Linked DNA regions of Homo sapiens: all the other regions are linked to region 3. The links come from fine-mapping of genetic effects on gene expression. A gene starts in region 3. Each other region holds a variant in brackets. All regions are shown on one strand. Distances are from middle to middle.

Region 1 (2,765 bases), 24 kb before region 3:
CTTGGAAAATATAGTAAATCTAGGAGGTAAGTTTCATTCTCCCACCTTCATACAAAAAAAGAAGTTATATATTAATTATGAATCCTATGAGGAAAATGTGCAAACTGAAATGTTAAGACTGGAAGCCAAAAAATTCCAAAACTCAAAAGAATTTTTATTAGGAACAGTGAAAATGGGACCAGGTTTATTAAGAACTCTTGGAACTTTTCGAAACTTCACCACACTGAAGAAGCAGTATGGACCCAAAGGATACGAATGAAGATCTGAGACTCCAATGCACCCCCAAACTGGAGGGTAGAGGAGAAAATGAAAATTACATCTCAGATGGCTTTGACGGCCATTGCAGTGGAATCTGTGGGTAGTGATGAAAAGGCTCAGGTCTATGGGACTTTGTCTCCCAGGACAGTTTCCCAGGACTGCAAGAGTTCTTCATTTATGCAAACAGCAGGAGAAGGCAACAGGCAAGGTGGGGAGTTAGCTCCTCTCCAAAGAGAAAAAGGAATATGCTTCTCCACCCTCCACCAGGAATGGGACTCAGCCATGTCAAGACTGGTACTAAAAAAAAAAAATGAGATTTGCCAAACCCAGAGGAGAAAAGACACAGACAGAGAAGCAAATTTCCTTTCCAAAAATTAATCAAAGCTTTAGTTCCCTCCCTCCCCTCACTAAACTGGCATCAAGACTTGAACCTTAGGATCCACAATGGTATTCGAAGAGAATGATGAGGAAACCTATAAAGTCATTATTCACTGTTCATGTAAAAAACACCACACCTAACTAGAAGTCTACACATTTAAGAGCAAGCAAACAGAAAAATACATTGTTAGTGATAACACTTTGCAGCATATAAATGATGGGAAATGAATAAATGTTGAAAATGACGTGGTGCAAAAAACATAAAGCAATCATGAATTAACTTTGTACCAGCAAAACTGAAAATAACACCTATTTTATGAAATGAACCAAAGTGAAAAGGCAAAAGAAAAGAAACTGAGATTGCTTAAATAATTTGATATATTAATATATTACAAAAAAGAAATAGATAGATCACATCATCTGGCTCTTGCAATTCAATTTAAAGGATCAAAAATATGAGGCTTATTCCACAGAAAAAATAAAGTAATCTTAATTATTCTATATAACATTAGCCAGAAACTACTACAATCAATGCATGTTTTTCATTTTATACAGGACACTTGGCTGGTTGGTAAAAAATAAGGTAACATGAAGTTTTCAGATGAACAAAAACTGAAATAAGTTATTTATTAGAATAGAATACTAAATACAATAGAATAGAACACTAAAAAATGTAAAAAAGTATGTACTTCAGGCAGAAGGAGCATTATCACAGATGAAAAATTGAAGATGCAGAAAGGGATCAAAAGAATTGTGAGACTATATTGAAATGAACACTGTATTAAAACAAGAACACTAACATTTTTAGGATGTAGA[T/C]TATACAGGTGAAATTAAAATATATGACAACGAGAGCATAGAAATCAGGAAAGGGACAAATAGAACTGAAATGTCTGAGTGTGCTTTTGCTTCACAGGACTAGAGTACAATTATCAATTAATATTTGAATTTTATAAATTAAGAAGGCTTATTGTAATTTCTAGGAAATACTACAGGATGACTAAAAAAAAAAAAAAACACTTCAAAACTACCAGGAAAAAGCATTATAAAATCATAAAATTAATCAACTAGGAAAGCTCCTTCTAGCTAGGATTAGACCTCTACAGCTACAAAAATCACTGATTACAACTAAAATATCTAGTAAACAAAAGTCAACAATTGTGGGGAGAGTCAAAACACGGAAAAGTAGCCTAAAAGGAGGTGTTTTCTAGTTTTGTTTTTTCTCTTTTCTCTTACAACATGGATCCAAAGGCAGTCCTAATCATAGACTGTTCAACATTGGTGGTTAAGAATTCATGGATTCTGTGTGTTAGGCCTGAGAAACCAAGAAAAGGGCTCCTGAGGCTAAACGAGTGTACATGGGAGTCCCCTATTTTCCCCATTATTTTTTCTCCAAGATATCCCCTCAGGGTGTGCCTGGTCCTGGAATATAGCTTAGACAACTGAATGTTCTTTAACTTGCAACTGAGTAAAAAAGCTGTGGTGCATCCAAAGTTAATGTTATTGGCCGATACTCTTTGGCAATAAAAAGGAATGGATTATTATTACACACACACACACCATGAATGAATTTCAAACACATCGTTATAACTGACAGAAACCATGCTCAACTATGATTTGATTTATATGACATTCTGGAAAATTCAAAATTAGAGGAACACAAACACATTGGTTGTTGCCAGAGAGTGGAGATGAGATAACTGAGTGCAAATGGGCAGCGCAGGGGAGAGTTTTGCGATGACGCTGCCTTGTGGTTACATAAGTGCATGCATTCGCCAATCTCATGTAACTGTACACCAAAAAGAGTGAGTGTTACTGTGAGCAAAGAAAAAAATAATCAACCCAAAAAAGAAGGCAAGAAAGAGAAAAGGCATAAAACCAGACAAATAGAAAACACATAATTAGATGGTTGGTTTACCCCGTAATATATTAGTAAGTACAGTAATGGTAAGTAGACTGGATGTTTGAGTGAAATATCAATCACTAGATTTAAATATCAAAATCTAATGCTGTGGTGTGCGAAGGAGACACGCTTAAATTTGCTGGGTACATATTGAAAGCTGTAAGAGTAAATAACTGTGTAGATAGCATACATAACTAACCAAAAGAAAGTTGGGGTAGTTCTATTTAAC
Region 2 (2,765 bases), 89 kb before region 3:
CCCGGGACAGCAAGACTCAGGTGACTGTCCCTGGTTGTCAATACCCCACAAGCATTGTAACATACCATTCCCAGCAGAAGCTGACATTGTCCATACTCCACCATAAGGACAACTAGAAGCTCCACGTCTGGAAAGCTCTCAACTCCGCTCTGCATCTCCCCCTTGGCCGATGGTAATCTGTATACTTTCACTCAAATAAACCATAACCATGAGTATAACAGTTTTCAGTGAGTTCTGTAAGAACTCACCTAGCAAATTATCAAACCTGAGGGTGACCTTAAGAACCTATAAATTCTGCAGATGGTGCAGAAAGCTGCCTTGTGGACTGCCTCCAACTTTGCAAACACAGGAAAGGAATCAGCCTGCACATGAAGCCCCTGCAGTACTGGGCCAGCCTCCCTGCTCTGCGCTGCAGGGGTGGTGTCCACCTCCAGCTGGGAGGGCAGCAAGAGAAAGGTGTGGACAATGATGCTTCAGAACTGTAATCTCCTCTTCTGCATTCCACTGCAGAAGACAGATTTATATGACAATCCTGGGGTATAAAAAAAGAAAAAATAAACCTTAGAAAATTAAAAAGGATTTTTCCTAAATTAAGACTGACAACATCTCACACATAAAACATACATGTAGAGGTCAGGCACGGTGGCTCATGCCTGTAATCTTAGCACTTTGGGAGGCCAAGGGCAGGCAGATCACCTGAGGTTAGGAGTTCAAGATCAGCCAGGCCAACTAAAAATACAAAAATTAGCCTGTAGCATGGTGGCCCACACCTGTAATCCTAGCTACTTGGGAGGCAGAGGCAGGACAATCGCTTGAACCTGGGAGGCAGAGGTTGCAGTGAGCCAAGATCATGCCATTGAACTCCAGCCTAGGCAACAGAGGGAGACTCCATCTCAAAAAGAAAAAGAAAGAAAGAAGGAAGGAAGGAAGGGAGGAAGGGAGAAAGAAACAGAAAGAAAAGAAAGAAAGGAAAGAAAGAAAGAAAGAAAGAAAGAAAGAAAGAAAGAAAGAAAGAAAAGACAGACAGACAGAAAGAAAGACAGACAGACGTGGAAATACTTTTATCCTATACCTTAAGAAAACATTAATCAATTAAAATGTACATTTTGCTTAATCATCAGATTAAAATTAGAGTTTAAACCATAGAAAATTTTAAAGAAATAGTCATGTCAACAACTCCTCTCCAACCCAGAACTATAGACATACCCACTTCCCACTGTGAGTGAAGGTAAGGGGTGATATGAGATTGCAAAAAAAAAAAAAAAAAAAAAAAAAAAAACCAGACTGAAGAA[C/A]CCAGAAGAAAAAAATGGCTGAAATACAGGGAACATAACAAGAAAAGAAGAAACACTGCCTAGTCTAGGAATGGACGTCACCGCATACTTTTCAGCCAAGCCCAGACAGTCCCAGAATCGTTCTCAACACAGCACCCCAGTTGCTACAAATAGATAGATCACGAAATTCCTTCACCACTCCAAAATTAAATTAACCATGAACAGCACATGGACTGTGGACCCATGGCATAAAAGGCCAGAGTGAGCTCCATTAGTTCATGCCTGACACTGTGCTAGGTACATTTAAGTACATTGTTTAGCATCCTCAGACTGACGCTCCTTTTGTAATGAGGAAAGCAAGATATAGAGGGGGAATCTGACAAGTCAATGTCACACCACTCAAGCTTTACTGGTACGTAGCTACACTCATCATTTCTATATTGTTCACAGCTGCTTTTGCACTAAACAGCAGAGTTGAGTAGTTGTGACAGAGACAGGAAGGCCTGCAAAGCTTAAAATATATACCATCTGGTCCTTTTCAGAAAAAGTGTGCTGACTCCTGGTCTAGAAAATTTTTCACTATAGTTTTAAAGTTCCAGAATAAATAAGTACTGTTACATATACTTTCTATTTAGCACTATTTTAAATTAAGGTTGCCAATGATCCACTTCATACTTTGTGAGAATAAAAAACAAAATGTAATATGACTTTCTTTGCCAATCATTCGACCCATGACTTCATTTCCAGAAAAATAGAATTCTGCATCCCAAGAGCATTTGGCATATGACAGCTCCAGAAATCAAAAAGAAAAATATCAATACGTTTCAGGCAGTCTTCTTTTGCGGACTAGTTGGGAAGCATTTTATTATATTTATATTTATATTATATTTGTAAATAAAATAATAGTGACCATGAATTGAGTGCATACAATGTGCTCGAAACATACTAAATGCTTCACAGTATTTTTCTATCCTCAAAACAACACAATGACATAAGTGCTTTTCCTTTTTTACAGAAGAAGAAACTGAGGCCTAGAAATGTGAAAAAATTTGCCCGAAAACACTCATGAAAAGCAAGAACCCATAGTCACACTCAGGGCTGGGGGACTCCAAAGTTGGTGCTCTCTCCCAGCATGCAGAACAAGGATTCTAGGCTGGAAGCTGAGAAGCAAGAAAAGGGAGGAAGAGTGAGCCTCAGCTGGGCACTGACACATGACTGGCACTAGAGCTGGCACCTGACACATGACATCTTCACATCACACTCTTCCTTCACTTAGATGGAGAAATAAGGTCTGGAGAGGTTGATAAAGCTTCCCCGAACTGTTCCCATTCATGGTACCTCTTTCCTTGCCTCTGTGTTACTGATCTGAGCCATCCATGTTAACATCACACAAAATTCAATGACTCTACACCAGCGGTCCAGGATGATGACATGAGGTGTCACTGGGGGGGGTAGTTCTTGCTACTGAGATCCATCCTCTCCCACAGCAGCACA
Region 3 (2,765 bases):
TTAACTTCACCCAAGGCTTCGTGCTGGAGGGGAATGGAGGAGCTCCTGATTTGCTATTACTACTCCAAACTGCAAAGGGCTCCTTCAAGTCACCTATCCACCTCCTAAGGCAAGCGTCCAATTTCAACAGCGTTCAGGAAAGTCTCCTCCCGCGGAGGTCTCACCGCTTCCCACTCCACCCCCACAAACTCTTTGGAAAAGTGCCTTGAAAAATTTAATCCTCAATCCAATCCTGGACCACCAGCGTCCTCTGTTGGTCACCGAAGGGAGGGGGTGCGCAGACAAAACTGAAGAAACTCGAGTGCCAGAGAAGGCCGACAGGAGTTACAGCGACCTCAGCGCGCAATTGCGCCCCCGAACTTTACTGAAAAGTGTTTAGATTGCAGAGATAAGCTAGAATCCCAACGCATCGAGAATACAGTAATACGAAGTCGCCTTCAAAAAATGACAATGAAAATTGCCTATTAAAGGACTATTTGGTTAATTACGTTTCAGCAGTGCCCAGTTTATTGTCTTTATTATTCTTTTGTCATGGGTGTAAACTCCATTTGAAAACATAATCAGGGAGAATACCCAAGACAAGAAGAACAGTTGTCATTTAAAATATTTGAAAAGCCCTGCCTTAAGGACGCATTCGCTTGCCGGTCCACTCTTAATTGGAGACTTGCGGTGTAGCAACACGTGAGAGTCTTCTTGCGTTGAGAAGTAAGCCTGGAAAGGGGCGAAGGCCCCGGGCGCATCTTCAGATGCGTATTTGTGGGCCCCTGGGGATATAAACAGCCCAGCGGGTGTAAATTAAACCCCGCAGTGCCTTGGCTCCCTGAGACCCAAATGTAAGTCAGAAATGTCCCAAGACTTCGCCTGCCAACGGAATTAAATTTTAGAAAGCTCCACGAGGTACACACGAATGCGGAGCGCTGTATGCCAGTTTCCCCGACACCGGCTCGCCGCAGGGAGACCTCACCCCGAGAGCGGAAGGGGTAAGGGCGGCGGGGTCAAGGAGATCGGGGGTGCTGAGTTGGCCAGGAGTGACTGGGGTGACCGGGGGTGCTGAGGTGGCCTGGAGTGCCGGGGTGGCCGGGCACACCTTGGTTCTTGTAGACGACAAGGTGACCCGGGCTCCGGGCGTGCGCACGAGGAGCAGGTGCCCGGGCGAGTCTCGAGCTGCACGCCCCCGAGCTCGGCCCCGGCTGCTCAGGGCGAAGCACGGGCCCCCGCAGCCGTGCCTGCGCCGACCCGCCCCCCTCCCAACCCCCACTCCTGGGCGCGCCGTTCCGGGGCGTGTCCTGGGCCACCCCGGCTTCTATATAGCGGCCGGCGCGCCCGGGCCGCCCAGATGCGAGCACTGCGGCTGGGCGCTGAGGATCAGCCGCTTCCTGCCTGGATTCCACAGCTTCGCGCCGTGTACTGTCGCCCCATCCCTGCGCGCCCAGCCTGCCAAGCAGCGTGCCCCGGTTGCAGGCGTCATGCAGCGGGCGCGACCCACGCTCTGGGCCGCTGCGCTGACTCTGCTGGTGCTGCTCCGCGGGCCGCCGGTGGCGCGGGCTGGCGCGAGCTCGGCGGGCTTGGGTCCCGTGGTGCGCTGCGAGCCGTGCGACGCGCGTGCACTGGCCCAGTGCGCGCCTCCGCCCGCCGTGTGCGCGGAGCTGGTGCGCGAGCCGGGCTGCGGCTGCTGCCTGACGTGCGCACTGAGCGAGGGCCAGCCGTGCGGCATCTACACCGAGCGCTGTGGCTCCGGCCTTCGCTGCCAGCCGTCGCCCGACGAGGCGCGACCGCTGCAGGCGCTGCTGGACGGCCGCGGGCTCTGCGTCAACGCTAGTGCCGTCAGCCGCCTGCGCGCCTACCTGCTGCCAGCGCCGCCAGCTCCAGGTGAGCCGCCCGCGCCAGGTGCGCTGCGTGCAGCACCCGGCGCACTGGCGCCGAAGGGCCTGGGGGTTGCTGGGTGCCGCTGCGGGAGACTCCGCTTTTCTTCTCACTGGAGATAATATGTGGGGAAACTGAAGGCGCTCCGGGAAAGGTGAAGGCGGTCGCCGGAGGGACCCTCCCCAGCCGGCCCTCTACTTGCTCGATTCTCTAAGTGCAGAGTACTTGTAAATTGCAAAGCGCTTTCAGTGAAAATGGGTTAAAGGTTTCCGGAGCTGAGGGGAGCGGTACCGATGTTTAGCTGTTGGAAAGATCCTGGACACAGGAGATTCTCCTCGCCCCGCACGGGGGTGCACACGGACTGCAATCCCAGGGATGCTTGGGGATGGGGGGGATATAGGCGGATTTGGACCAAGGAAGGTGGGCAGGCACGTTGTAGGAAATAGTACCTCTCTTTTAAAATACTGACTTTGCACAGCCTTTTGGTTTGCAAAGCAATGTCTAGTCCCGGTATGTCCAAAAACAAGTAAAGTGGATTCGGGTTTTGATATCTTCTGCGGTTGGAAAACCTGAAGCTGAAAAAGAAGTAACTTCTTAAGGTTACCCAGCGGCCACAACAGAGTGTAGGTTTGAACTCCGCGTGCCACTTTCAGTACCATACCATTCTTACAACTCGGGCCACCCCTGCACCTGCGCCGACCTCAAACAAACTTCCAGGTGCGTGGTGGGTGCGGGCAATGTGGACTAAGTCAATTTCAATGACACGGAAGGGAATTGGAATCAGTCCTAGGGCTGTCTCCCTTCTTAATCTGAAATGGGGGGGGGAATGAGATGTTGTTAAGGGGAGCCCCAGAAGAGGAAAAATGCAAACATTTGGCAGAGTTACCCTCTTGGCTTAGCCA

What was found.
Region 1: its variant is fine-mapped to the expression of IGFBP3 in whole blood (INTERVAL, PIP 0.99).
Region 2: its variant is fine-mapped to the expression of IGFBP3 in whole blood (TOPMed, PIP above 0.99).

Annotation. Positions count from the first base shown.
Region 1 is chr7:45,943,794-45,946,558 of GRCh38, reverse strand. The region is part of intron 1 of LOC102723446 (a long non-coding RNA gene); the gene reads right to left. Among named protein-coding and RNA genes, the nearest start is that of IGFBP3, 24 kb to the right of the region's middle. The variant T/C (reference allele first, on the strand shown) is at 1,453.
Region 2 is chr7:46,008,396-46,011,160 of GRCh38, reverse strand. All of the region lies in intron 1 of LOC105375264 (a long non-coding RNA gene), which reads left to right. Among named protein-coding and RNA genes, the nearest start is that of IGFBP3, 89 kb to the right of the region's middle. The variant C/A (reference allele first, on the strand shown) is at 1,293.
Region 3 is chr7:45,919,842-45,922,606 of GRCh38, reverse strand. It overlaps IGFBP3 (insulin like growth factor binding protein 3), which reads left to right and starts at 1,335. Exons shown (of 5, transcript NM_000598.5): 1 at 1,335-1,869. The coding sequence starts at 1,467. RefSeq lists enhancers at 371-951, 952-1,532.